6 linked regions of the Homo sapiens genome follow. The protein of the gene in region 5 purifies or fractionates together with the protein of the main gene of each other region. This does not show direct contact. Each region holds a gene or a part of one and is shown on either strand. Other genes may lie near its edges.

Region 1 (4,242 bases), on a different chromosome or scaffold from region 5:
TGCGTGCCTGTACTCCCAGCTACTGGGGAGGCTGAGGCAGAAGAATTGCTTGAACCCAGGAAGCAGAGGTTGCAGTGAGTCGAGATCACGCCACTGCACTCCAGCCTGGGTGACAGAGCAAGACTCTGTCTCAAAAAAGAAAAAAAAAAAAAGTACACATACATAGTTGGGAACAGCAAGGCTCAGCCCACTTGACAAATAATAATTCCAAATGGCAAACTGATGGAGTGCCGAATGTGAGGTTTTAATGTATAGTTTAAGGCAAGTAGAACTCAAGGGCTAAAAATAAAAAAATGTTTTTAAGTTTTGATAAATGTTTTAAACTTAAATTCTGATTTAGCTTAGACTGCATAAATCTTTAAGAAATTAGTTTTTTAAAAAGCAGGCAAATGGTAAAATCAGAATTATGATATTTGTAAGCTGAATGCCAGTGGCTCATGCCTGTAATCCCAGCACTTTGTGGGGCTGAGGCAGGTGGATCACTTGAGGTCAGGAGTTCAAGACTAGCCTAGGCAAGATGGCGAGGCATGTCTCTGTAAAAAGAAAAAGGAAAAAAAGAATTATGATGTTTGAGTTCAACTTGGAAAGTTACCTTGAAAAAAACAAAAAAAAAACAAAAAACAAACAAAAAAACCCTGTCATTTCAAAAACACTCCTGCCTATCATCACCAAAAACGAAACAGTTCCTGTTCCCCCAGGAGTTCCAAAATACATGGTACCCAGCAACTTCATTCGGCACTTGCTACAAAATCCGTTTCTTTGCTGAGAATTCTTAGCCATTGCTGGAGTGAATGTAGCTAAGAGTAGAACTAGGATTACTGTAATAGTTACTCTGTTGAAGTGATCTAGAAAATGAGATGTGTTGAAGCGGGGAAGTGTTTGATTGTCAGGTCTAGAGGAAAAGAATAGGAAAAGTCTCCGAGCTTTGAATTTCCTGATGTTTACATAGTACAAAGGTTTATTAGAAGAGGCTGACGAATGTCTAAAAGGCTCAGTTTCTTCTATTGTATTTTCAAATAGCAGAGAAATAGCTTTATTTTTACTACTCATAACAGTTTATTTTTACTTTGTACAAAATACAAAAATGCAAATCCAAGGAGTACAGACCAGTAGTGACAGGCACACTGCACAACAGCAACCTTGTCTAGCAAGACAGGAGTTTTTTAAATTTTATTTTAGTGAATACATGCATTATATAAAACAACAACAACAACAACAACAAAAACACAAAGAGGCTAGAGATTTCACCGTTTCTACCACCAAAATAACGCTTGCTATCAAGACTTTGGAGGGGGATGGGGGAAAAGAATTTAAAAGGCAAATAATTTTTTTTTCATAAAAAGTAAAAGCTACCATAAAACATTTTTTTTTCTGTCACACTGATTAAATTTCTTCTGAAAAGCCGCACATATAGACAAAACAAAACAAAAATTCCTGAACTGGACAAACAGCAAATACTCAACAGGGTTGTTAACCTAGGTAACAGTTCAGTAGTTTAAAGAATCTTTTAGACATCTGGAAGCCTTTCTATTCATTCCTCAGTACAGTGTTCCAGCCATCCTGCTTGTTTTTTCCCTCCAATACCTCCCAGAACAGAAACACTTGCATCGAGTCTGTTCCTAAGAACTAGTTTTGAAAAAGAAGCGATGTACAAAAATATTTAACAGAACTATGAAAGATGCAGGAAAGGAGTCTTTCTTCGTAGCAAAGTAGTCGTTGCTTTGCATGGTTTCTTTTGTATACTCTTCAGGGTTTGTTTATCTGCCCCATGAATAACACAGCACCTACAGAATTAAAAGAAAACAATGCATGACTCTGTAAATTAATAATCCTTAAAATAAGATGGAAGGTATTCTATTTAAGGGAAGGGAAACAATCATGTTTGACCTCTTGCTCAGTAGTGTCCAGTATAACTTTCTGCAGTGGTAGAGATGGTCTATATCTTTGTTGTCTAGCATGGTAGCCACTAGTCACATGTGGCCAGAGAGTGCTTAAAATGTGGCTAGTGTGACTTAGAAGTTGAATTTTAATTTTATTTTTTATTTCTTGAGACAGAGTCTTGCACTGTCACCCAGGCTGGAGTACAATGGCGCCATCTCGGCTCACTGCAATTTCCGCCTCCTGGGTTCAAGCAATTCTCCTGCCTCAGCCTCCCAAGTAGCTGGGATTACAGGCACCCACCACCACTGCCAGCCAATTTTTTGTATTTCTAACAGAGATGGGGTTTTGCCATGTTGGCCAGGCTGGTCTCGAACTCCTGACCTCAGGTGATCCACCCGCCTTGGCCTCCCAAAGTGCTGGGATTACAGGCATAAGCCACCGCACCCAACCAGAAATTGAATTTTTAAAGTTAATGTTAAATAGCCACATGTGGCCAGAAGCTCCTCATTGGCTGGCTCAGTTCTGGGGCATGCCAATTAGAACATCACAGATGCAATGAGATAAGAGAATAAGGAACTATCTCATATTACTGATTAAATAAAATAGTAAAAGCTAAAATATATTAGTGCCTACTCTTGTACCAACAAGAAGCCAACCTCTCTACAAAGATGAACTTATACTTCATAATTGTAATAAGCAGTCAGCACTACTGTTGTCCTCATTTTAAAGATGAGGCTTAAGGCCAGAGCCAAGTTTGAACCATGACTCACAGAGCAAAAATCTACTGTATTAACAATTCCCAAGGTATAACAATAGAGTGGGCTTACAAAGTGGTATGGTTTGGCTCTGTGTCTCCACTCAAATCTTGCCTCGAATTGTTAATAATCCCCATATATCAAGGGCAGGACCAGGTGGAGAAAACTGAATCATAGGAGCAGTTTCCCCCATACTGTTCTTGTGATAGTGAGTGAGTTCTCATGAGATCTGATGGTTTTATAAGGGGTTTCCCACTTCACTCGGCTCTCATTCTCTCCCCTGCTGCCCTGTGAAGTGATGCCTTCCACCGTAATTGTGAGGTTCCTGAGGCTTCCCTAGCCATGTGAAACTGTGAGTCAATTAAACCTCTTTTTCCTTGTAAATTACCCACTCTAGGGTATTTCTTCATAGCAGGGTGAGAACAGACTAATACACAAAAGTTGAAGTTATATAGCTTCTAGCAAAATTGAACCACCACATTTATATAAATATGGAAAAGTCAATAGATGTCAAAAGTGTTCCAAAGGGATGCTGAGCCTCTCTGTTAAAAACAACAATCCGCAAAACCTAAAATCCTGTCAGTGTGTAAAAGATTCCATCACATCTGTAAACACAGCCTTTATTTTCCTATCTCTTTAACATGGGTGGTTATATTATTCAAAGTGTCTGCAACTATTGACATTAGGGAAATGGACTATGGGCACCACTGTTGGATATAATGAAGAGTGCAATATACCTTTTGAAATTCTAACAGAGAGGGCATGATGGAAGAGGAGAGTCACTTACCTGTAGGATTATGTCGGATGAAAAACAGAAAAGGTCTGTCTACTATAAACCAGGGAGGCGATGATCTTGCAATGAGAATTGCAGCTACGGGAAGAAAAGGAAAATGTGTTGTGCACATTACATGAGACCATGTAAGCATAAGGCCAGCAAGTTAGCTAGCTTCATGGACCCTCAGAGGCTGGTGTCTGAAGACACACTTCATGCTTGTTCCATAGGCTGGCCATGTTACAACAGGCTCAATGGTCACCATTTACTAAGCCTACCTTGGGCCAGGCCCTTTACATTACTCTCTCATGTCTTCTACACAAGCACCATCTCTGATAAACATACTTACTCCTCATAGAGTTTTGATGAGAATTAAATGACATAATTAAATGACATAAGATATATTATAGCTCTTAGAACAGTGTTTGCCACTAAACACATCTAATGCATATTTATTGTTATTAGCTATTTTTTATTCACACCATCTGCTTTGCTGATAAAGCCCCCAGTCCTTTTTTTTGGGGATGGAGTCTCACTCTGTCACCCAGGCTGGAGTGCAGTGGCGCGATCTTGGCTCACTGCAACCTTTGCCTCCCGGGTTCAAGCGATTCTCCTGCCTCAGCCTCCTGAGTAGCTGGGATTACAGGCATGCACCACCACGCCTGGCTAATTTTTGTATTTTTAGAGACAGGGTTTCACTATGTTGGTCACGCTGGTTTTGAACTCCTGACCTCAAGTGATCCACCTGCCTCAGCCTCCCAAAGTGCGGGCATTACAGGCATGAGCCACCGCGCCCGACCCCTGGTCCTGTTTAGCTTCTCTAAATCTTTTCTG
Region 2 (5,529 bases), on a different chromosome or scaffold from region 5:
TCTACAAAATGGGCATATTACTCACCTCGTAGGTTATTAATAGATGAGTTAATAAGTGTAAAATACTTAGAACAGTGCATAGCCAGCAGGGCATGGTGGCTCACACCTGTAATCCCAGCACTTTGGGAGGCCGAGGCAGGCAGATCACCTGAGGTCAGGAGTTCAAGACCAGCCTGGCCAACATGGTGAAACCTCGTCTCTACTAAAAATACACAAATTAGCCAGGCATGGTGGCAAGCACCTGTAATCACAGCTACTAGGGAGGCTGAGGCAGGAGAATTGCTTGAACCCAGGAGGCAGAGATTGCAGTGAGTGGACATTGTGCCACTGTACTCCAGCCTGGGTGACAAGAGCAAAACTATGCCTCAAAAAAACAAAACAAAACAAACAAAAAAAAACAGTGCATAGCCCATTTTACTACAAAAGACATACTAGGTATTATCTGGAAACAATCTTCACAGGCAATTAACCTAAAAGGCCAGCTTCAGCTTCTAAAAGTTATTGTTTGATAATTCAATTCTACATGTATTTACTAAACACCTACTCAGCAACTTCCCCACACCAATGTCTCCTCTTCCTTTAGTATTATTCTCTCTTTACTAGCTACTTCTGCTTCTTTGACAGAAAAAAATAAATAAAACTCACTTGACATTAGCCTTTTCGGTACTACTATCTGGCTAAGAGGAATAGGAATGCCTAGTTTTTGAGAAATATTTTCAAGAAATTTAGAAAAAGCAAAAGATTTTGGCTAACAGTGAAAAAATAATATAAATGACATTTGAATTTTATGCTTATTTTTAGATGCTATTCTTCCCATAACTGTTTTTGTTTTTGTTTTGCTTTTTACAATACATATTCGGCCAGGCGTGGTGGCTCATGCCTGTAATCCCAGCACTTTGTGGGGCCAAGGCAGGCAGATCACTTGAGGCCAGTCGTTTTGAGTTCAAGACCAGCCGGGCCAACATGGCGAAATCCCCTTTCTACTAAAAATACAAAAATTAGCTAAGTGTGGTGGCGCACACCTGTAATCCCAGCTACTTGGCTAAGGCACGAGAATCGCTTGAGCCCGCAAGGCTGAGGTTGCAGTGATGTGAGACAGCACCACTGCACTCCAGCCTGGGCAACAGAGTGGGACTCTGTCTCAAAAATAAATAAATAAATAATAGGTATTTAATAATGGGTAACCAAGTAAGAGCAGTTCAATATAGACATGAAGTAATATGGATTCTAAATTTTTTGTCTAGCAACCATCTCATATATACCATATTATCTTTCGTGGCAGTCAACAAAAACCTTTTATCAAATATCTTATATGCAATTACTAGAATAAAAAACTGAAATAGTCCTAGCAATAAAACTGCATTGAAATTACACTTTTAATTTGTAAATTATTCTAAAGCCTTTATATACACCCAATTTGTAAAATTTTAATGGTTTCCCTAATCACAGCAGTGTAAGTCACAAGATTACAAGATTAAAAAGTAGAATACAGTACACTTTTGAGCTTATATGCCTGTATCACGGAACTACACATTGAGAGTTCTGAGTTTCATATGGTAACTTTTCCTAAGTGTTTTTTTAATTGGAAATATATTAGTAATAATATCATTAAACAGAAGGATGGATGCCCACTGAAAATTTAAAAATACTCAAAGACCCAAATCTATACATGGTCCCTGTATACTATGTGAAACAATAGCAGTTCTTAAACTTTGAGACAGCTTATCTGATGAAAGAACACAAAAGGAAATCGTTTTAAGCTGTTTAACCTCCCAACAAAATTATCTTAGGTGAAACACCACAAGTACAGTACAAAAACATGTCACCAATTCGAGATTTGTGTCTCTAAAGAAATACATACCTACACAGGTAAGAAGTTTCTGGCTGTGACCGAAGGTAGAACAGTCAAAAGTTTAGAGCTTTTATTAGCTAAAATAAGATCCCAGCTAGCCAAGGATCCAGCGAAAAGTTTTGTTGATTACAAATAAAATCGGATCCATTAAATAGGTAAGGACGACTGCTTCATTTCCTCACTTACCAGAAATGACATAAGACTCCCTCAGATCGTTCTGATTTAGTACAAACACAGTCTCTCATAGAAACTCCTATCATTAATGGTAAAGGTATAAAAAACAATTACTCGTCAAGCAAACTCTCAATTTACCTGACCTTCCTGCCTTGCTCAAGTCTACCACTCTGAAAACCACAGTTACAGCCCTAAGTGAAAGCCATTTGAAGAGTCGTTCACATGCACGTTTTGATGTGAGAATACCAATTAAACAAACTGCCAATCACCTTTAGGCCAAATGCAAAAGGGACTGTTTCTGGCCCTGACCTGAAGACTGGGAAACGTCAAGACCCTTTACTGTCAGAAGCTGCCTTAGTTAGAGACTATCGGGATGGGGGTCTCACTTAGGGGCTGGAAGGTGAGGAGAAAGTTACAAGAAAGGCCTAGGAATTGAACGCGTGTAGGTTGGGTGCACTTACAAGTAAGTATAAACTGCTCTTCAATTCAAGTTTATTAATGCTGCCCCACCCCAGGGTTTTAATCCGGTCTGGGCAGAAGCGGGCGATAAAAGCCAAAGGAGACCATAAAGTGTAGGATATTTCCTGGTTAGTGGCTGCCGGGTAATCACGATGCATCCATCTTCCTCGGCGTCGCAGCCCTCAGTAGCCAGAAGGCAGTCTCCTTCCCTGGGGGGCAAAAGCCCCGAGCCCAGCCTGCCCGTTGCCCCGCTCCCGCGGTGGATGAACCTCAACCCTTCCCAGGCTCCTTCCTGGCCCCAGGGTCCCAGGAACCCCGAGACCCTGGGGTGCGGCGCCACTGAGGCCCAGACCGGGGGAAGGAGACCCTGTCACTCGGGAGCGGAGCCCTGTCCCGGGAGCGCACGGAAATGCCTCCTCCACGCTCCCAAGGTTCCTGCTCCGCCAGGCCCAACCGGAAGGAGTCCTCGGGCCGCAGTGGGGCACCACCGGGCCGCCGGGCACTCCAGGCTGCGTGGGGCCTGCCTCAGTGGGCAACTGGGGAGCTAGCCCGGGGCGGCCGCGCCGGCCGGGGCGCCTCACCGTGTGTTCGTGCTCGTCCGCCCGGGTCCGGGGCAGCAGCAGCAGCAGCAGCCACAGCGCGGCGGCCGCCGCCACGCCAAGAGCGCCAGGCAGCGGCCTCATCCTCCGCGCCCCTCCGGCCCGGAGCCGGCTCACCGACTCCTCCTCCCGCCGCCGCCTCCTCCGCCGCCGCCGCCTCCGCCGCGGCCGATTCGCATCCACGGGGCGCGGACAGACGCACGGGGCCCGGCCCAGCCGCTGCCTCCTCTGCCGCCGCCGTCGCCGTCACCGCCCGCTCCTGAGCCTCCCCCGCCCCCCGCGCCTCCTCAGCCTCTTCCTCTGACTCAGCCACGTCATCCGGCCACCCCGGCACGCGCCGGAAGTGCCTCGCGACGCGGGGCCGCCACCGCCGCCGGGCCGAGGGAGGGCCCGGCAACCGCCGCCTGCGCGCCGGCTGCCCCTCGGCTCCTGGGAGCCGCGGCGCTACGGGCCTGCCGAGCACTCGGGCGGGCGCCGAGCAGGCTGGGCCCCGGCGCAGTGGCCTAGCCTGGACCGCAAGGCCGAAGCCGCCTCCGGGCCGCGTCCCGGTGTTTCGGGTTGTGTAACCTTGGCCAAAATGCTTAAGCTTTTTTCCTGGCTGCCAAATGGGGCCGATCGTCTGACCTGCTGCCTCCGGAACTTGAGGGATCAGATCAAATAACCCTTTCCTGGCGCTCGTCTGCCGCTGTGAATGAATCACGGGCTCCTGTAATCACCGTTAGGAGAGATTGTTAAACTCGTACAGGGTTGGATGTTTTAAAGTTACTGAATATTTACTGGACCCCTACTGTTCAATCAAGACATGCTAAGTTAGCTTGCCATTCTTGTTCATTTATGTGTTTACTTAACTATTTCTGGGTCTCCTCTTCCCAGTCATAAATATCTCTTGGAGTGTAAGCTCCTCGGAGCAGAGATCCTGTTTCCGTATTTCCTGTACCTAGAACAGTGCCAGATCCGTAGTAGACACTGAAACAAAAAATCTTTAAAAAAAAAAAAATATACGAATGTGGCACCACCATTTACACAGGCCACTAAGCCAAAAATCTCGAACTTGTCAGATTGTCTCTTCTCAGCCATCAGCAGTCAACAAGTTCTAGCATTTGGTCTCTTAAAAGTGGTTCAAGAGTTTATTTTTCCTCTCCTTCCTCTGCCAGTACCAACCAGTCTTCCGTATCACTATGTATTGCAAGAGTCTCACAAGAAGATATCCATCACTGACTGATCTTCCTCCCGTTTAACATCCCCAACAGGTGCCAGGGTGATGTTTTTTTTATTCTAAAAAGAAACCAGATTATATCGCTCACTCCCTTGCTTAAAACAGTTCTTCAATGTTAGGTAAATAAATCATGGAGTCACCACGAGGGCGTTCATCTGCCAGGCACTATTCTGAACGATATTGGCTCATTAAATTCTCACAGAAACCCTATGCAGCAGGTACGGTGAAAATGTTCCTGTTACAGATGAGGTAACTGAAGCACAGAGAGCTTGAGTGGCTTGCTGAAACACCAGACCCACTCAGTCTGGCTCCATAATAGGTCTTTTTGCTGGTAATGATTTACCAACTATACAGCCACTTTAAAAAAAGGAAATAGGTAAGTACTGGCATGGAATGATAACCAAGAGGTTCTGTTAAATTTTCAAGTTGAAGAAAATAAGAGTTTAACTTCATTTTATATGGCAATATGTTAGTCTGCCCATAGAAAACAATCTGAAAGATTATAACAAACTACTATCAGTGGTTAACTTTCTACTTTGTACATGCCTATAAATGTTTGGTTATTTTTTACAGTGAGCATGTGCTAACTATGTAATCAGAAAAAAAGTTCCCTGCTAAAGGATAAAGTCCAAATTTTTGCCTATTTTATCCCTAATTTATTTCCCTAACTTTACCTTCCACCAATTTCTATGCTCTGCATTCACCCGTATATATTTTTACACCTCTGTGCCTTTGCTCTTTATACTCCCTTTATCTGGCATGCTCTGCTTCACCTTGTGCCTTAGATATTATCCTTTCAGACCTAGCTGATGATCACCTCCTCAGTGAAACCTTGCATGATCCCTTGAGAAATGGAGCATTCCTTCTTTGGGATTTCAATAGCATTTGGCGTGTTGTGTTGTAATTATCTATTCACATTTCCTCTTCTACACTGCATTCGGACCTTTTTGATTGCAGGGACTATGATTTGTTTGTCTTTATATCTGTCCCAGCTGCTGAGATAGTGCTTGTCACATCATAGGTATTCAACTCTTTGCTGAATGAATGAAGACATTAACAAGTGAAAAGTCAAATAGCATAGCAAGATTTGAAGAATGCTTTCTAGATAGTGTAAGAAACATCACAAAGCAGTACATGATTAATTGCTGAATGAATCATACACCAGTAATTGCTGTAGAAATCAGAGGAGGCATCTTATACATCTTTGTATATCCTCCCGAGCACCTAGC
Region 3 (4,232 bases), on a different chromosome or scaffold from region 5:
CGGAGTGGTGGGCATCAGGCAGACTCCCAAGATGAAGGCACTCTAAGGACAAGGGCAGACCATGACAAGGATGAAACAGCACCAGGGAGCGGGGAGTTGGCTCAGCTCACAGCCCAGCATGCGAAGAGCATTGAGTTTCGTGTGTACCTTCACTGCTCCCCATAAGCCACTGCCTGGGTCTGTCTCCTGCCCTGGGCTCCAGAGTCCATAAGCAGAGCCATGCCCCACTGACACCAAATCTAGGCCACCCCAGCTAGGCCCCCACCTGCAGTGACAGTCACATCAACCAACCAGGAAGGCCTGTGTTAAACTTTTAAACCATGAGCAGAAGCAAGCTCACACTCACATGTGCATGTGTGTACATGTGTGGGACAGATCCTGATGCACAAACCTGTCTTTTCTGCCTGGCATCCCTCTCTGTCACCCCTCTCCCCCTCTGACCTGTGGATCTCTTCCTTCTCCCTGTCTCTCCCAGGCCCTGGAAAGGGGGAGATCCCTTCCTTCTCTCCTCCCTGCTCTGGGCACAGGGAACCTTCCAGGCTGCTCAGAGACCAACACCCGCCCCACCCAGGCATGGGCAGTGAGAACGGCACAGTTGTCTTTAAAACAGTCAACAGCCAGGCGCGGTGGCTCACACCTGTAATCCCAGTACTTTGGGAGGCTGAGGCGGGCGGATCATGAGGTCAGGAGATCAAGACCATCCTGGCTAACACAGTGAAACCCTGTCTCTACTAAAAATACAAAAAATTAGCTGAGCGTGGCGGTGGGTGCCTGTAGTCCCAGCTACTCGGGAGGCTGAGGCAGGAGAATGGCCTGAACCCAGGAGGCGGAGCTTGCAAGGAGTTGAGATTGTGCCACTGCACTCTAGCCTGGGTGACAGAGCGGGACTCCATCTCAAAAAAAAATTAATAAAATAAAACAGTCAACAAACCCACCTCCGAGGGTCAGAGGTTTCAAAGACTCAGTGAGAAGCTGCTCTGTCTCTGGAGGCCTTTGGCAGCTCCCTGCCTGCAAACCCACCCAGCTGGGCACAGCCTGCCCGCCACCCATTGGCTCTCCACACCAGCCTCAGTCATTGCACCACATTCCTCTGGGGGCTGCATGTCCTTACAAGCCCAGCAGCACATGCACACACATGTACACACACACAGGCACACGCAGGCACTTGCACACACACCCTTCACTGTCCCCAAGACATCTGCCTTGCCTTGCTCCCCGGTCATGGGAATGAGTCACCCTGAAGGTTGCACCCTCTTCAGGAAGCTCCTCTTGAGATCCAGGATCACAGGGGACCAAGGTGATACAAGTGAGGTCCATCTGCAGCCAGACACCAGGTGAGCTCTGGTCAGGGCTGGAGTCACCAGTGTGTCCGGGGCCCAATTGTATTGGATAAGATAAGGCTAAGTTGTGGGTGGCAGGGGGAGCCAGGACTCAGACCAATTTCAGGTTAGGGTCAACGCAGGCTCAGGAACTGGGTGAGGGAGACAAGTGCAGGGCTGCTTCCACAGTCAGTGTGAAGCCAAGCTGTGGGAGCCAGGGTGCCCCACCCAGCAGAGGCACATGGCCCTCAGGGGCTAGACACCAGGTCAGTGTCCCATCAGGACTGCCTCTAAATGCATGTGGTTCAGGGGGTTTTTTGTTATCTTGAATCCAGGGCCCTACAGAGACAAGATTCTGTCTCCCTGGAGATGACCTGTGTCAGCCCCCAGGGAGCACCCCCACTGCACACACCCAGACCTGGATACAGGGGCAGCCCTGTGGGCCTGGGCATGCAGACAGACCCGGATTCCTGTGCAGGCACACCTATGCATGTCCAGACAGGAACACAGGACACAGCAAGTAACAGTTACACCCTCCCAGCACCACTGGAGTCTCCTCAGGATAATTATTTATTATTCATAGTCATCAGCATCTTCATTAATTATTCATATGATCCTTAATTATTATCCTTAACAATAAGAGCAGTAAATAGCAGAAAAGTCCTTGAGGTGCCTAAGGCCCAGGGCCGGGTGCCTCCGGGCAGTTAGACCAGCTAATGCCCTCAGGGCAGTGGGGGGACCACAGGCCCCACCTACTGCCGGCCCTGCCCCTGCCCCTCTCACTGGGGCCCAGGGGACTGCAGGAGAAGATGGTCCCAAGGGCTGGGGGAGGAGCTGTGCTTTCGAGTTCCTCTCCCCTTCCACGGTCAGGGCCTCCTGAGCAGGGCCTCCAAGGGGAGCGGCCCAGCAGCGCCTTGATCCCTGGGTGAGCCACGTGTCCACACTGGGCAGCCCCACTAACTGCCCGGGTCCGAGCCGTGTCTGTGCAGGGGCTGGGAGGTGAGGGCCCCCAGCTGGCCCGGTAGGGAGAGGCGTCGTGTGGGGCCTTCTTGGGGAAGCTCTGGGGCCCCCGGGGGCAGCTCCTCACACGCCATGAACTGGGAAACCTGCAATACACACAGAGCATGGGCAGGCGAAGAGGCCATGGAGGAGGAGGAAGGGGAGGGAAAGGGGCAGGAGAACCCGGGGACAGAGGATGGACGGGAGGACAGGAGGGCCAAGAGGAGAGTCAGGTGGGCAGAGAAGCTGGAGGGGACAAGAGCCAAGGCAGCGAGAGCAGGACAGGGGCCACCAAGGGGAGGCACCAAGGTGGGAAGTAGAGAAAGGCATTCTCTGAGAGCAGGAGCCAAACAAGAGAGCTGGGAGCAGGGAAAACCCTAGGCCCCTGTCTCTTCCCGAGGGAATGTGGCCGCTGAGCCCAACCCAACCTGGAACAAGCAGTCTCTGTGTTGGGACAGAAGCTGGGACAGAAAAAGAGACAAGATTCCTTCCCGCAATCCAGAAAGAACTCGGGGACCTAGAAACAGAGGCAGGCTGGCGGCCAGGCATCTGAAGGCCAGGGAGAGGGCCGGGGCAGGCGGGAGGGGTTTGTGGGTACTGAGCGTCTGCTGGTGAGAGCTCTGCGGGGGCGGCTGCGAAGGGAGACTGGCACATTTGCTGACGTGGGCCCTCGTGTCTGCAAACAGGAGCAGGCAGCATATGGGAGGGGGGAGCGGATGCCAAGGGAAGTGGGGAGGGAGCAGATCCCAGGCCGCCTCTGGCAGCCAGAGGAGTCCCCACCATGGACGCGGAGGTTGACACAGACACCGCCATCCTGCAGAGGCCAGGAACATGCAGGTCCACCCAGGAGAGGACAAGGGGCAACTAAGGCCCATCTCTAGCAGAGGGGGCAAAGCAGGCCCAGGAAGTCCTCCCCTGGAGGCTTGGCCTCTGCACCCTGGGAAATGCCAAGCACCCTCAAGATGACCCTGTGACAGCCACTGCCAAGGGCAAGGATGGGCAGGACGGTGAGACCAGGGAGTGTCACTCACAGAAGGGACCCGGGACCCTGTCCCTAGATACTCTGGTATGCAGCCTCCACCGCCACGTCTCGGGCTCAGTCAGTTCTTGGAGACCACCCGTGGCCGTGAGACAGGCACCACCGTTGGAGCTGGCTCTTCAGGCGATGCTCCGGGGCCTGGCGGTGGAGGCTGTGGACACTAGGGGAGTGAAGCTGCGGGCCACTTAGCCTACAGGTTCCCTGCACCCAGCTGTCTAGGGGCTTTGGACGGGGGACTCTCCTGCCCTACCCTGAGCCTGCAGCTCCTGAAGCAGCCTTCCTCCAGGAGGACAGGGGTGGGAGGAGGGCAGGAACAAGGTTCAGGGAGGCTGGGCCACAGAGCCCAGCAGAAAGGCAGCAAAGCAGGTTTGGGCTGGAATCGGGGAACAAGCGGGTCACGGTACATCGAGGAAGCAGGGCTGGAGCTTACCTGAGAAAGCGAGTCCAAGGTGAGGGTGGGGAGGGGGCTGACGGGCAACAGCGGGGATGTGGAAGTGGGGCCAGGCCCCGGGGTGGTCACAGCACTGTAGGCGGGCGGGACCAGCGTCATCTGCCTCTGTAGCAGCTGCAGGACAGTGGCCATGTCTGCACTCAGCCGGGTCTCCAGCCTGGGGCAGGAAGTGGGGGATGCTCAGAGAAGTGGGGACACCAGTGACAGCCTCCACCGGGAGTGGGGAAGGGGAAGGGGAGGGGGGAGGGGCAGCCTGTCAACCCAGGCCCTCCGCGCTAGAGGTGTGGCAGCCCCCAGCTGGGCTAGGAATGGAAGAAGGGGATCCAGCTGCTGCACACACAGACAGGCCCTCTCCCTCTACCAGACAACACCGCCAGGACCTGGACCAGACTCCAGGGCGTGCCCCCCCACCCCACCTGCACTC
Region 4 (4,871 bases), on a different chromosome or scaffold from region 5:
GCTTGCTTCTCCACATCCTCGCTCATTCAGGGTATCAGTCTTTGTAAAGTCTCCTATTCTGCAGGTGAAATTCCTTTTCATTTCCTGTCTTAGTCCATTTAGTGTTGCTATAGTGGAATATCTGAGACAGGGTAATTTATAAAGAAAAGACATTTATTTAGCTCACAGTTCCGCAGGCTGGGAAGTTTAAGAAGCGTGGTGCTGGCATCTGCTGGACTCCTGGGGAGGGCTTTCCTGCTGTGTCACAACATGGTGGAAAGTCAAAGTGGAAGTGGACATGTGTGAAGAAGCAAAATCCGAGGGGTGTCCTGGCTTTATAGCAACCCAGCCTCGAGGGAACTGATCCATTACTGAGGGAACTAATTCAGTCTCATGAGAGAGAGAACTCACTCACTACTGCAAGAATGACACCAAGCCATTCATGAGGGATCTGCCTCCGTAACCCTGACACCTCCTGCTAGGTCCCTCCTCCCAACACGGCCACATCAGGGATCAGACTTCAACATGAGTTTTTGTGGGGACAAACAAAACGTAGCACTTGCTTTGCCTTTTGGTTCTATTCACATCCTCCACAGGATTGCATTATGCCTACCCATTTGGTGAGGGCAGTCTTCTTTAATTGGTTTACTGATTCAAATGCTACCCTCCTCCAGAGACATCCTCACAGACACACCCAGAAATCATGTTTTACCAGTTATCTGGGCATCCCTTAGTCCAGACGAGTTGATACATAAAATTAACCATCACACATGGGATAGAATTAGGATTACACAGTCAACCTTTATGGGAGAAAATTTCAGAGGCATGTCAGGGGTTTATGTAATGTCAAGGAGTGAGGACATTGGCTACTTGAGCATAGAAATGAGAACTGTGGGGTGACTCTTCGGTGGAAAGTTTCAAGGTAGTAGTTTGTATCTAAGCCAAATACTCAGCTTGAAGCAAAATCTCTATAAATTTTCATCTGATTTGATCTCATCTCCGTGTTTCCAAGCATTTGTAATGAATTGAGCATTTAGAAGAGAACAAATTTCTGTTTAAGTTTCTTTAGATTTTAGATGGAAAGAATGTAGAAATAAGAGTAGAATGTAGAAATAGGTATAAGGAATATAATAGCTAACCATTACTAAGTGTTCCAGAATTATCCAGGGAAGAGAAAAGAATTCAAGGCAAGTCCTGAGACAAAATTAAGAACCAATTGGAAGTGAAAGCGCTACATTTTTTTTTCTGGTATGACCTTTCTTTTCTGTATGTTCCAAATCTCCTCACTATGAAATTAGTGAAAAATTAAAGTTAAAAATTAGAGAAAATTCACATTAAGTTCTCCTAGGACTCAGTAGTATAAGGGTATAGACTGAGAGTAGAATGTAGTGTGAGAACAAGGAGATACAGTATTTAACCATTACTAATTCTCTTATACTTGTCTAGTAATCCTATTTCCTTTTAAAAGTCTTCAGTTATTTTCTCTTTACGCACCTCCTTCTCCCTCTTGTCTTCCTCCTTCTACCCCCATCTTCTTTCTTCCTGTGGAGCCTTCATGAATGGGATTAGTGCTTGTATAAAAGTGACCTGGAAGACCTTCCTTGCCCCTTCCACCATGTGAGGACACAGTGAGAAAACAGTGGTCCATGGAACCGGAAAGTGGGTCCTCACTAGACAGTAAATCTCCTAGCACTTCGATCTAGGACTTCCAGTGTCTGGAACTGCAAGAAATCAATGCTTATTTTTTAAGTAAGCCAATAGTATTTTTGTCATAGCAGCCCAGTTGGACTAGGACAATTATCAAGAGCAAGAAGGGAAGCAGCAAGCTACAAGAGAGTTCCGTCCTTGGTGTAAATTGACCGTGTAATCCTTGTCAAGTTTGAGCCTTACTGGAGCTTTACTTTCTTATTCTTAAAATGCAGATATCTTGCCTGCATCCTGGACAGAGCTTTTAACAAGGTCATATGTTGCAGAATATGAAAGTTCATGTTAAAAAACCCTTTAAAATGTGGTATCCCATTTACTAGCTGGTGAACTTCTTGAGGAACCTCTGTGCCCATGGGTATGAAGTGTATGCTGAATGATCACCCAATGTTAGAGGAGTGGGTGGACTGGTAACCTGATTTAAGGGCCATTCTAACTCTTACATTCTATGATTTTTTTAATTCTGTCTTTAAGTTTTTACATTTACAATCACAGAAAAAATAGTCACATAGAAGAATAGTAGCTTAGCAAATGTTTATTGCATTGAGTGGAATCAGGATTTCACTCCATTAAGTAATTCCTCTGTTAACAAAGAGGGTTCATTTCATTTTTATTTCATTAATATTGCTTTTTTTTTTTTTTTCTGGAGACAGAATCTTGCTCTATCACCAAGGCTGGAGTGCAGTGGTGCGATCTCGGCTCACTGCAGCCTCTGCTTCCTGGATTCAAGCGATTCTTGTGCCTCAGCCTCCCAAGCAGCTGAGATTACAGGCACATGCCACCACACCTGGTTAACTTTTGTATTTTCTAGTAGAGATGGGATTTTGCCATTTTGGTCAGGCTGGTCTTGAATTCCTGGCCTCTAGTGATCTGCCTGCCTCTGCCTCTGAAAGTGCTAAGATTACAGGCATGAGCTACCATGGCCAGCCCATTTCCTTAATATTTTAATTGTCAGACATGTTATGGTTTCTGGCACAATATTAAGAAGACATGATATGAAATCACAGGGTGAATTTTAGGGCATCACAACAGAAAGATTATGGTATAAGAAAAACAATGGAATTCCAACTACATTTCTGTCAAATGTTCTAAAATATATAAAATCTGTATCTTTTGTGTTCTCTCCTGATTTATATTCTAAATTTGATGTTATCCTTCTCTGCAGAAATAAAGTGTCTGAAAGAATGAAAAAAATGGAAGAATTCTTTAGTAAGGTATAAAATACCCTTTCTATCTTTGTAGCATTCTAAGCCTTTTGTCACCTTTCCAAACTCCCAACATGCCATATTCCCTGACTAGGCCACAGCCATGTACATTGATCCCTTTATTTTCTTCTCTCTGCCTGAGATTTCTCTCATTCCCCCTTCTCTGCCTGGTATATGATTGCCCATTGTTTAAGGCCCCAACTCACCTTTATAATCTTCCTAGCCCACTTTCTTTATCGGTATTCCAGAAAAAACAAAAGAAGCTTCCACAAGACAACATTCTGTAATACACTGCTTAACTTCTTTTGACCCTGCTGAGTTCAAAAATCTTATCTTTTTAAGGATTGAATGGAGTCCACCAAGGTATCTATATTTGACAGGATTTATGAAAACAAAAGGATTTGTTGAGAAAGTTTGAAGCCTAACTCTGAAACGTGGATCATAGTGTTTACTACACATTAACTGTTTTAGTGGATGTAATAGTTATTATTATAGGCTGTGGAATCAGAACAGGGTTCAAATGTTTTCACCGCTTGCTAGACTGTGGCCTTGGGCATGTTATTTAATGCCTGGAGGCCTCAAATGTTAACTAGGAATGGTAAGACCTACCCAGTAACTTAGCATAAATAGTAAATTCATTCATTTAATGTTTTCAAACAGTGCCAGACATTGTTTAATGAACTGGGGATATAGTGGTGAACAACACTGACAGCGTTCTTCATTGTATTCTCAAAACCCTCCCTATAGTAAGTAGGTCTGTGTGTGTGTGTAGGTGCATGGGGAATAAAAAATAATAAGCAAATAATGAACAGGGTAATTTCAAAAAGCAGAAAGAGCTATTCAACAAAACTACCTGCCTTTTATTAGATGAAACTCTCAACTCTATGGTTTGTTCTCTCCTGTCAATTCTGTTAAATGCTGTCAGCCTGTTTTCCTTATCACCCTGGCCACGACTTCTGTCTTTTCTGCTTGGTCCTGTAGACTCTAACCCAAGGCTCATTCTCTGCCTGGCTATCTGCCTTCTGTGGCTCTTTGCCACTACCTACATTTTCTGTGTTGCACAGGGAAGGACCATTCCCTGTGGACCATAAAATTCTCTTTTTGAAAGAATTCATTCTTGATTGGGCCACAGCACATCTTGTGAAACAGCATTAGACATTTGCCACTGCTCAGCAGCTCTGGGGGAAAATGTTTACTGAGAAGCGTACAGTAGTTTTTTTGACTAACCATGGTGCAACCTCCTCCCAGAGGGAAACCTATGAGTATTTCAAGGACATGTGATGGTCTGTTTTTGTCCCCAGTATCTGACATGATGGGTAGTGTAGAGCAAGAGCTTACAGATAATGGCTAAATTAAATTTTCTTTTTGAATTTTAATATTCAACTTTTTAGGGTACCCAATCTCCATATTTAGGAAAATAAATTACATAAAAAGTGGAGAGTTTTTATTGTGAAACTGCACCTCCATATTCCCAGTGGTGCAGGATGAGGGAGCACAGGTGTTGGTCTGGGGAAGCCAGGGCCCTCTGTGGTTCTGGAGGGTGAGGATTAAGAGGAAGCCTTAGATAGTATTTATGAGTATCTGCTGACTTCTCTCTGGGACCCAAGATCACTGAACTTTTGCCTATTTTGAGATCATCTTTCCAATCCAGCCACTAACAGCTGAAGGATAGGCTTGCCCTGGAGCCATTGTAGTGGTTGGATGAAGATAAAAGATAAAAAACTGTGAGGGGAGGTGTCACAGAAGAAAGGGCCCATGTGGGCAGATTTTCATTCAATTCCTAGTCTTTATTACAGCAATTCTCCAGTGCTGCAACCTTAGAAAAGGATTCCTACAACACAATGTAGGTACCCATCAGCAGCAGATTGGATAAAGAAAATGTGGTACATACACACCATGGAATACTATGCAGCCATAAAAAAGGAGCAAAATCATGTCCTTTGCAGCAATATGAATGCAGCTGGAAGCCAATAACTTAAACGA
Region 5 (4,871 bases):
GCCTCTTCGAGGGGAGCTCTCTGTGAAATCTCCCTAGACATTCTGAAGTCCACCACGTGACAGCATAGATTTTTCATTCAGATGAATGTAACTGTTCATAGAGAGATGCTCTGTGGTGAAACAGACCACCAATTGCACGTTGCTTCCAAGGGCAACCAGTCTGACTAGTCTTGCATAAGCTGCCAGGAACTAGTTGTATGAGATGCGTGATTTTTTTTAGGTCCATAGGAGGTCAAGGATGGGGATATTTGTCTCCCCCTTGTTTATGGAGTCAGCAGCCACAGCAGTGTCCATCTCTGGGGGAGAAGGCAGAGAAAAGAAGTGGGTGTTCACCATGGGTTGTATACAAACATTGGAAGCAAGGGAATGCACACACCCAGCACCGCAAGTGAGCCACAAAAGCACAGTCATGAGGAAAAAGAAGGAGACTGAATGAGTTGGATGACCTGATACCATTTAGGTAAACCAAAATGCACACATGCAACCCCATACGCCACAATATGCAGCAATGCATATTAAAGAAGCTCATTCTGATGGTCACCTATAGGGGTGGAGATTGGAGTGGTGGATGGAAATAGAAGGGAATCAATGTATCCATTCATCTATCAAGAGAAGGCATTGCACAGACCCAAGATGGCACATGCCATGGCCTGTGGAGTGTCAGCTCACCCCTCTCACCTGAGATTTTAAAATTGTATACGTGTGTGTGCGTACGTGTGGGTTTTGGCCAATACGTACTTTTTGATTTGGGGTTGCATTTTTCCTTTAAGAGGTGTGCCTGGGAAGTTTGAGCTGCAGCAGTGGAACCTTAATGCCCAGGATGATCCTGTCTAACACCACAGCGGTGACGCCCTTTCTGACCAAGCTGTGGCAGGAGACAGTTCAGCAGGGTGGCAACATGTCGGGCCTGGCCCGCAGGTCCCCCCGCAGCAGTGACGGCAAGCTGGAGGCCCTCTACGTCCTCATGGTACTGGGATTCTTCGGCTTCTTCACCCTGGGCATCATGCTGAGCTACATCCGCTCCAAGAAGCTGGAGCACTCGAACGACCCATTCAACGTCTACATCGAGTCCGATGCCTGGCAAGAGAAGGACAAGGCCTATGTCCAGGCCCGGGTCCTGGAGAGCTACAGGTCGTGCTATGTCGTTGAAAACCATCTGGCCATAGAACAACCCAACACACACCTTCCTGAGACGAAGCCTTCCCCATGAACCCCACCACTGGCTAAAACTGGACACATCCTGCCTGGCAACCTGATTTTCTAATCACATTCCTCTCATACTCTTTATTGTGATGGATACCACTGGATTTCTTTTTGGCTGTTGTAAGGGGTGAGGGGTGGATTAATGACACTGTTTCACTGTTTCTCTAAAATCACGTTCTTTTGTGATAGACTGTCAGTGGTTCCCCCATATCTGTCCCTGCCTTGCTAAATTTAGCAGAATCCCTGAGGACATGGCCTCTGAGAATAGCAGCTGCATTTCCCAGACTCCCTTGCAGCTAGCAAGGTTGTGTGACTAAGCCCTGGCCAGTAGGCATGGAAGTGAAGACTGTAATGTCCAAGTAATCCTTGGAAAGAAAAGAACGTGCCCTTAACTAACTTTGTCCTGCTTCCCAGTGGCTGGATGTGGAGGAGGTGGAGAGCAGTTATGAGACTGGGAAAGAACGGGGCACTCAAAGAGCCACACACATCTGGGCCTGGGCGACGTGGATCCTCCTTACCACCCACCAGGCCAGATTTACAGGAGAGAGAAATCCACTCCACTCTTCCTTAAGCCACTGTTATTCTGATCTCTGTTAAGGTCGCAGAATCAATGCCCTTACTGATACACCTACCTTATAGGACTGAACCTAAAGGCATGACATTTCCATACTTGTCACAAGCACACACTGATTCTGCCCTTGTCACTTCTGTGCTCACTCTTGTGGCTCTATCCTCCTCCTGCCCTTCCGCCTTCCACTCCTCCCTTGCACCCATCCTGCACACATCTCCCTGAAAACACACAGGCACATACACTCATATACATAGACACACATACACACCTCAATCTAGAAAGAACTTGCTTTGTACAGGGCTGAGATGGAGGAGAAAAAAATGCCCCCTTCAGAATGCATACCAAGGGGAAGGTGCTCGGTCACTGTGGGAGCAGGGAAAGGTGCCCCCACTCCCCGAGAGCCAGGGGAAGGAGTGGCTCTGGGCAGAGAGGGACACATAGCACTGGGGTGGCAGGTCCTTTTGAGGTGATGGGCCGGTTTTGTGAGATGAATTGTATCCCCCAAAAAGACAGGTACCTTCAATGTGACCTAATTGGGAAATAGAGTCTTTGCAGATGATCTAGTTGAGATGAGGTCATTGGGGTGGGCCCTCACCCAATATGACTGGAGTCCTTATCGGAAGAGGGAAATTCAGACACAGATGCATAGGGAGGACACCATGCCGTGACAGAGGCAGAGGGTGCAGTGACACAGCCACAAACCAAGGAAGGCCGAGGATGGATGCGCATCCCCATCCCAAGAAGTCGGGAAGAAGCCAGGAAGGCTCCTCTCCCACAGGTTTCAGAGGAAGCACAGCCCTGCTTGAATTCAAACTTTTGGCCTCCAGAACTGTGAGTCAGTACCTGTTGTTGAAGCCACCCAGCTTAGGATACTCTGGCAGCCTACTGCCATACAGTATTGGGATACTATAGTGAGCCCATGCAGCACCTCTCACCCACCCAGAGATGGAGCTGCTCTGCCTTCCAGCGGGGCACCCGGAGGGCTGCCCCAGCAGATAGAGAGGGCCTCCGTTCTGCCACCTGCCTTGAAAGGGTCTCCAGCTGCCATATGTAGCATTGGAGTCCTCTGCAATGCGACATCCTGAAAGCTCAGCTGCCTGGGCATTCCTGAAGAGTATGGAATATTTAAATGAAACATATTTTTTTAAAACCTGCGCATAAGATAAAAGCAGCCCGTGTGCATCTTGGGCCATCCTCAAATGGACAGACTTGGTCTTGTGAGGTTCCAGTCCTTGTTTCACATAATAAACACTGGCATGGCTCAGCCCCTGAGTTACCACAGTCCTTGAGATGAGTGGTTCTTTGGGTTACAAAGTCCTCTGAAAGTCTAGTGAGAGCTGTGATCTTTGCCCCACCCGAATAATGCATATGGACACCACACCTTGCCTGCCGTGTCCAGGATTCATGACCAGTAGCAGCCCAGCTATGCCTGCCACGTCTCACGGCCCCTGTGTAAGCCAGACCCTTCTTAGGCAGTTGCATATTCCCAGACTGAGGCAGGGCAGGTTTGCAGAGAGAGACCCAGAGTGCACGTGACCCGCAGTGTGATCCCTGGCACGCACTGACTTTGATATTCCAGGCACACGGACTGGCTATTTATCACCACTTCTTTTTCCCCACTAAGATTCCTGTGCCTTTTAAGGCAGAGGGAGATCCCTATGGCGTTAGTCTTCCCAGGCCTTAAAGGGCCCTTGTCTTCACTCACAAACCTCTTATCTCTTCTTCTCCTTCCTCTACATTTTAAAGGGGGAGAGGGAAAAGTAACCGGGAGACAAATTGAGCCACATATTTTCAGACACTTGTTACCATATTTTAAAATCTGGCTTCACATACACAGAGTCTTTGCTATGCACCATGTACTGTTCTAAGCTTCTTAAAAATAGAATCTCAATTATTATTTTGCAGGCAATACTCTATGCATTCATTAGCTAGGACAACAATGCATTTGCAGTAGTGAGATTTCGCTAAAAAATTAAAGCCATTTACTATGATCTGTGATGTGTGTTCTTAATATCACTATGATACTTCTAGAAGATGGTTATCAGTTCTTACAATGCTTTGATGAGGCAGCCCCACGGACTTGGGAATAAGGAAAGTAAGATTGCATGTGGATAATTAAACTCTGCCATCAACACACAGCGTGTCAGAACAGAGAGATGTGGGTCCCTCTGATGTCTGCAGATAGAAAGCAAGTGAAGCCCTAGGTGGAGACAATGGCGAACAGTGGCACCTCCTGCCTTGTAAAGGGGAGGCTGCTGTCAACTCCTCGCATTTGCAGCCAGCAGCGAATATGGGCACAGTCTAGACGGAGCAGGGAATGTGGACACCATCTAGACAGAGCAGGGAGTATGGGCACCGTCTGGATGGAGCAGGGAATGTGGGCACTGTCTAGACAGAGCAGGGAATGTGAGCACCGTCCAGACAGAGCAGGGAATGTGGGCACCGTCCGGACGGAGCAGGGAATGTGGGCACTGTCTAGACAGAGGAGGGAATGTGGGCACCGTCCAGATGGAGCAGGGAATGTGGGCACCATCTGGACAGAGCAGGGAATGTGGGCACCGTCCGGACGGAGCAGGGAATGTGGGCACCGTCCGGACGGAGCAGGGAATGTGGGCACCGTCCGGATGGAGCAGGGAATGTGGGCACCGTCCGGACGGAGCAGGGAATGTGGGCACCATCTAGACAGAGCAGGGAATGTGGGCACTGTCTGGACGGAGCAGGGAATGTGGGCACCATCTAGACACAGCAGGGAATGTGGGCACTGTCTGGACGGAGCAGGAAATGTGGGCACCGTCCAGACACAGCAGGGAATGTGGGCACCTTCCGGACGGAGGAGGGAATGTGGGCACTGTCCGGACAGATCAGGGAATGTGGGCACCGTCCAGACAGAGCAGGGAATGTGGGCACCGTCTGGACAGAGCAGGGAATGTGGGCACCATCCAGATGGAGCAGGGAATGTAGGCACTGTCTGGACAGATCAGGGTATGTCGGCACCATCTAGACAGAGCAGGGAATGTGGGCACCATCTAGACAGAGCAGGGAATGCGGGCACCATCGGATGAACTTCTAGGTATTGTTGGAGAAGCTGTGAACTCTT
Region 6 (4,871 bases), on a different chromosome or scaffold from region 5:
GAGAAGGATGCTGCGCTCGTTTGGACACGCTGAGTCTTGGGTACTATGGGATAACCAAATGCAAATAAATATTGGGCAAGCAATTGAATGTAGGAGTCTTAAATTCTGTACAGTGCTCTGATCTAGAGATGCAAATTGGGGAGCTGTTAGGATGCAAATGGTAACTCTGCAGCCACGGGAGTGGTGACATTGCCGAGCTGCTGTGTGGAGTGATGTGAGAGCAGGCTGTTGGACTGAACTCCAACGCATACCAAAAATTAAATGTTGGGCAGAGAGACAAGAGTTGCAAATGACCTCTAATCCACCAATACTCCTGAAGTCATAGTTTGTAAATAAGTTTATATTCTTCTCGGCCAACTCTATTACCAGGCATGAAAGTCTTTTTTTTTTTTTTTTGAGATGGAGTTTCGCTCTTGTTGCCCAGATTGAGTGCAAGGGCATAATCTTGGCTCACTGCAAACTTTGGCTTCCGGGTTCAAGCGACTCTCCTGCCTCAGCCTCCTGAGTAGCTGAGATTACAGGCATGCACCACCACGCCTAGCTAATTTTGTATTTTTTTTTTTTTTTTTTTAGTAGAGACGGGGTTTCTCCATGTTGGTCAGGCTAGTCTCGAACTCCCGACCTCAGGTGATCCGCCCGCTTCGGCCTCCCAAAGTGCTGTCCCAGCACTTTTATAGGGATGAGCCACCGCGCCTGGCCGTCTTACATTTTTTTTTCTCCCTTCAATTGTAAAGCCATAAATTGGTAATGAAAGCATTTTAAACACCTGAAATTAATAAACATTTGTAAAATAACTATTAAAACAATCTATGAACCACACGAATAGCCTTTGATTGCTCCAAACCTGGCTTTGACTATTTTGAGCTTTCTATATTACAACAGACCTTTACTTATACTGTAATTTTTCCTCTATCATTCTGTAAGTTTTGCCTTTCCTGATTGCCTGGATAGTCTTTAGTGGATTTACAGCTTGGTGACAGCCTAGAGAGATTTTCTGTGGTCAAAACATGATTAAATAGAGATTTGTTGGTCAGAAGATAACCATGAACCATAATACCCACAAGGGAAAGAGCCAGATTCAGTTTTGGGTGGGTCGATGGGGATTTACCTCATATGCTTTCTTTTATTTCACAAAATGTGTTCTGTTCTTTACTTTCGTATCTGTAGGAATAGAAATGGGAATGTGGCCTCTAGGGTGTGCTGATGTATGTTTAACAGCTGGCTTTCAAGGAAAAAAAAAAAAAAAAGATCTGATTTGCAGTGTTTACTAATTTTTTTGGTGTAAATACTCTCACCATGGCCAATTTCAAACTACCAACTTGACAGCACTGAAGGCAGAAAAAATGTTCACAGTTGGCTCTTGTAAGCCAGTGCAAGCTTGCTCCAGCACACTACTGGACTAGGAATGATCTGCCTGTAGCCAGGAATGGGAAAATACCTTGCCCATGACAGCTTAAGGTATGAGAGGACAGAATTCTACAAAATACAGAGTTTTTACTTTAAGAAAAATGGATTTACTCATCTACAGTCTGTTTATTTGTAGACTTCGACCTTTTTCTTTTGAATTACTGGCCATATGAGTATGCATTATGTAATAACCTTAGCATTGTAACTTCTATTTCTTTATTCATAAGCAATAACAGTTTCTAAAACTGGCTTGTATTTGAGATTGAAATGATGAGAATCATTTTCAATCCAATTTTTTTTTTTTTTTTTTTTTTTTTGAGATGGGGTCTCACTCTGTTACCCAGAGTGCTGGAGTGCTCACTGCAAGCTCTGCCTCCCGGGTTCACGCCATTCTCCTGCCTCAGCCTCCTGAGTAGCTGGGACGACAGGCACCTGCCACCAGGCCCGGCTAATTTTTTGTACCTTTAGTAGGGATGGGGTTTCACCATGTTAGCCAGGAAGGTCTCGATCTCCTGACCTTGTGATCCACCCGCCTCAGCCTCCCAAAGTGCTAGGATTACAGGCGTGAGCCACCGCGCCCGGCCCAATCTAATTCTTTATACCATGAACCAAATAAATTACCAGTTTTATTTCAGGATATTAGTATAATCTGCATTCTAATATATTTCATAAAAGAAAATATTTTATTTCCATTACATAGGCAAAGTTTGTTTTTTCCCATATCAAAGCCAAATATTATTTGATGTACTGACCAATAATATATGTAGAAAGAATAACAGCAAAATATCTTATTTCTTTATATAATTTAATATATACCCTATTAACACCAGTGTGCAGATGTACAGTACTGACAGTATACTAAATAGTTAGTATTAAAAATTACTTTAAAAATGTTTTCAACATTAGGTACTGGTGGAACCAGAGCTGTTATTTTGTACATCATATCATTTATGTGTTGCAAAGGAAAAGTAAAATTTCCAGTAGCATTAGAAAAAAATGTACTGATATTTTATGTAGATATACAAAATCTCATGACATCTATTGAAAACCTCACAATTCTATTGTGCACTAATAAAAACACCTTTTCAAACAACTTGCACTTATACTGAGTTCATAAAGGCTACTATAAAAATATTGCAAAAGCAATAAAAACACAATATCGTACAAAGTCTTTTGTTTTTTAAAAGTCAAATTTTAAAAGGACTGTATTTATATAAATGTGCAATACTTTTTAGTGACCCTGACTAACATTTTTGTTTAGGATTATCTGATTTTAGAAAACTAAGTTAAATGTTTTTCCTTATTTTCTGTTTCAGAATGAGAAGACACTAAGAATGCACAGAGGTTTAGAAATAAGATTGGGTAAAAGCTTTATGAAGTGGGATAGCAAGCACTCTACATGTTTTACTTGTTGCCCTACCAAAGATACAAATGCCTGACTGCCCCAATTTCTGAAATTTAACTTGAATTCTAAATCTTAACTACCCCCCTTTCCTTTATAATCTTTGAGATGAAAGTGTAAAGATTTTAGGTTCTCTAACAAAACCCAAAATATCACTAAAGCCATTCTCCATTTTCAAAGAATATTTAAAGAAATGCGTATTTCAATATAAAACCTGAAAATGCTGAATTAAGACACCTTAATAACATGGCTAGCCAATTACTGATGTGACTTTAGCCTTAGAAAAAGATTATCAAAATTGGCTAAGTTCCAAATTTAAGCATTTGGTTTTATACTGTTAATATTGTACCTTTCTGATATAGATATCAAAGAAAAATGATCTGATTTTTTTCCTGAAAACAACAGTAAAATACAAATTTTTTGTGAAAAAATCCATGTCAAGATAGGAAATACATTGTTTCAAAACTCAGAATAAGTGTTATGAAAGAACTATAAAATTATAAATTTCTAAAAAAAAATACACTGAAAATGTCTCTCTAGGAAAAAATATGCAACTTGTTAGATACAAGAAAATATGGCATTACCATAGGGTGCAGTCAACTAGGCTATGAGACTTTAAAAACTCACAAAAAGTAATTAGCACCAAAATTGTCTGAAACTTCAAATGATATATTAAAGTAGGTCTAGGTCCAAATGTTACATTTTAAAAAAGTTATATTTAACCTGGGAGCTTTCCCCAGTAATAATAAATATATTATTTTTGACCTTTAGAAAACGTTCTATCTTTACTGATTTTCATCACAATATTAAGGTAGTGTATGCTAATTATCATTTACCTTAGTTTAGGCTGGGTAGGGACAATTGAAATCCAAATATTTCCCAAATAATATGAGATTATTTGGTGGGGAGTGTGAGTGGGGAGAAGTTTTCTAAGTGAAACTTACTTTTAGCTTGTTTCATACTTTTTCTTCTGAAATGTTTTATTGGAACTCTTTATAAGAACTATATTGCTTGATTTGAATTCCATGTCCTGTTATTTTCCCTGTTCACTTTCTGGTGGTGTTACTTAAGATTTGGCATGGGGATAGAGGTGTATAAAGGAGACAGAGATCACAGTAGTGAAACAAGAGTTTTGAATAAGCTAATGTATATTCAAAATATATATTCAACCCTGTTATGATCAAGAGTTTAGTTTTAAGTGACATCCATGTATAAATTTACTTACAAAACAGCCAGCACATGATTTGAAACAAGGCAAACTTTTTCGGTTGTCAAAAAGTGAAATATATAACTTCTTCAATTACATATATGGCTACCAAATGTCAAACAATTCAATTCGGCCATGTTTTACTGTTGCACATAAATAATAACAAGGCAAAGAACAGCAACTAGTCCAAGGGCTTGCAGGCCAAGGAACCACAGCATAACCCAAAAGAAAATGACTATTACTGGTTCCACTATTCGTTCTCCAAAATACATCCTTGTGAAGCCCATGTTGATAAGGTTTTTGTTCAGTTCACCAAAAAGTGTTCCCATTTTCTTGTAGTCATCTCCAACCGGCTCACCAGTGTGGTTCTGTGAGTCTTCAACATCCTTTAAAAAAAAAAAAAAAGACAAAACATGAACATAACATGAGAAATATGTAAACGTCTTTAAGAACCTTAGTTCTTCATCTTCCAAAGTGCTGGGCATACTTCTGATAATTATTCTACAAGTACCTGTTAACACAATGGGAATGTTCTTTTTGATCCTGGAATTGCACAAAAATGACTGCTTAAGTGAAGAATCATGTTTGTATTTCTCTTGTGAGTGACCATGATTTCAGAACACCCTTTTCTGCCACCCTCCTGTTTTATGAGGCAAGGCCTGACTGCTCTGTCCTGGTAAGATTCTTTTTAGACGGTTCCTTTGACACTAAGACGTTAAGAAACCGAGCCTCAGATGACCAAAGCATGTTTGCTGTTATTATTGAGCAATCCTCAGCCACTACTGCTGTGATCTTTGTCTTAGGCTCAGCTAAGCAGACTTCAGCGCAGGCCCTTGCATAGTTTCCTGTTCATTA

What was found.
Region 1: the proteins of KCNE1 (region 5) and SERPINE2 purify together in Homo sapiens (affinity purification with mass spectrometry; one large-scale study listed by BioGRID and IntAct). This does not show direct contact.
Region 2: the proteins of KCNE1 (region 5) and TM9SF3 purify together in Homo sapiens (affinity purification with mass spectrometry; one large-scale study listed by BioGRID and IntAct). This does not show direct contact.
Region 3: the proteins of KCNE1 (region 5) and KCNH2 purify together in Homo sapiens (affinity purification with western blotting, with the first as the bait; one study listed by BioGRID). This does not show direct contact.
Region 4: the proteins of KCNE1 (region 5) and SLC25A24 purify together in Homo sapiens (affinity purification with mass spectrometry; one large-scale study listed by BioGRID and IntAct). This does not show direct contact.
Region 6: the proteins of KCNE1 (region 5) and FAM241A purify together in Homo sapiens (affinity purification with mass spectrometry; one large-scale study listed by BioGRID and IntAct). This does not show direct contact.

What each region holds. Positions count from the first base shown.
Region 1 is NC_000002.12:223,974,121-223,978,362, forward strand, and holds the end of SERPINE2 (glia-derived nexin isoform b precursor), read right to left. Parts: intron 3,508-4,242; coding exon 3,424-3,507; intron 1,785-3,423; coding exon 1,747-1,784; 3' UTR 925-1,746; downstream 1-924. UniProt on the Homo sapiens protein: Serine protease inhibitor with activity toward thrombin, trypsin, and urokinase. Promotes neurite extension by inhibiting thrombin. Binds heparin.
Region 2 is NC_000010.11:96,583,668-96,589,196, forward strand, and holds the start of TM9SF3 (transmembrane 9 superfamily member 3 precursor), read right to left. Parts: upstream 3,346-5,529; 5' UTR 3,169-3,345; coding exon 3,067-3,168; intron 3,042-3,066; exon of another isoform or gene 2,644-3,041; coding exon of another isoform or gene 2,488-2,643; intron 1-2,487.
Region 3 is NC_000007.14:150,943,090-150,947,321, forward strand, and holds the end of KCNH2 (voltage-gated inwardly rectifying potassium channel KCNH2), read right to left. Parts: intron 3,966-4,232; coding exon 3,788-3,965; intron 2,426-3,787; coding exon 2,276-2,425; 3' UTR 1,872-2,275; downstream 1-1,871.
Region 4 is NC_000001.11:108,193,458-108,198,328, reverse strand, and holds part of SLC25A24 (mitochondrial adenyl nucleotide antiporter SLC25A24), read left to right. Parts: intron 1-4,871. UniProt on the Homo sapiens protein: Electroneutral antiporter that mediates the transport of adenyl nucleotides through the inner mitochondrial membrane. Originally identified as an ATP-magnesium/inorganic phosphate antiporter, it also acts as a broad specificity adenyl nucleotide antiporter.
Region 5 is NC_000021.9:34,445,584-34,450,454, reverse strand, and holds the end of KCNE1 (potassium voltage-gated channel subfamily E member 1), read left to right. Parts: intron 1-770; 5' UTR 771-811; coding exon of another isoform or gene 812-820; coding exon 821-1,210; 3' UTR 1,211-3,765; downstream 3,766-4,871. UniProt on the Homo sapiens protein: Ancillary protein that functions as a regulatory subunit of the voltage-gated potassium (Kv) channel complex composed of pore-forming and potassium-conducting alpha subunits and of regulatory beta subunits.
Region 6 is NC_000004.12:112,186,224-112,191,094, reverse strand, and holds part of FAM241A (uncharacterized protein FAM241A), read right to left. Parts: intron 4,403-4,871; coding exon 4,157-4,402; 3' UTR 1-4,156.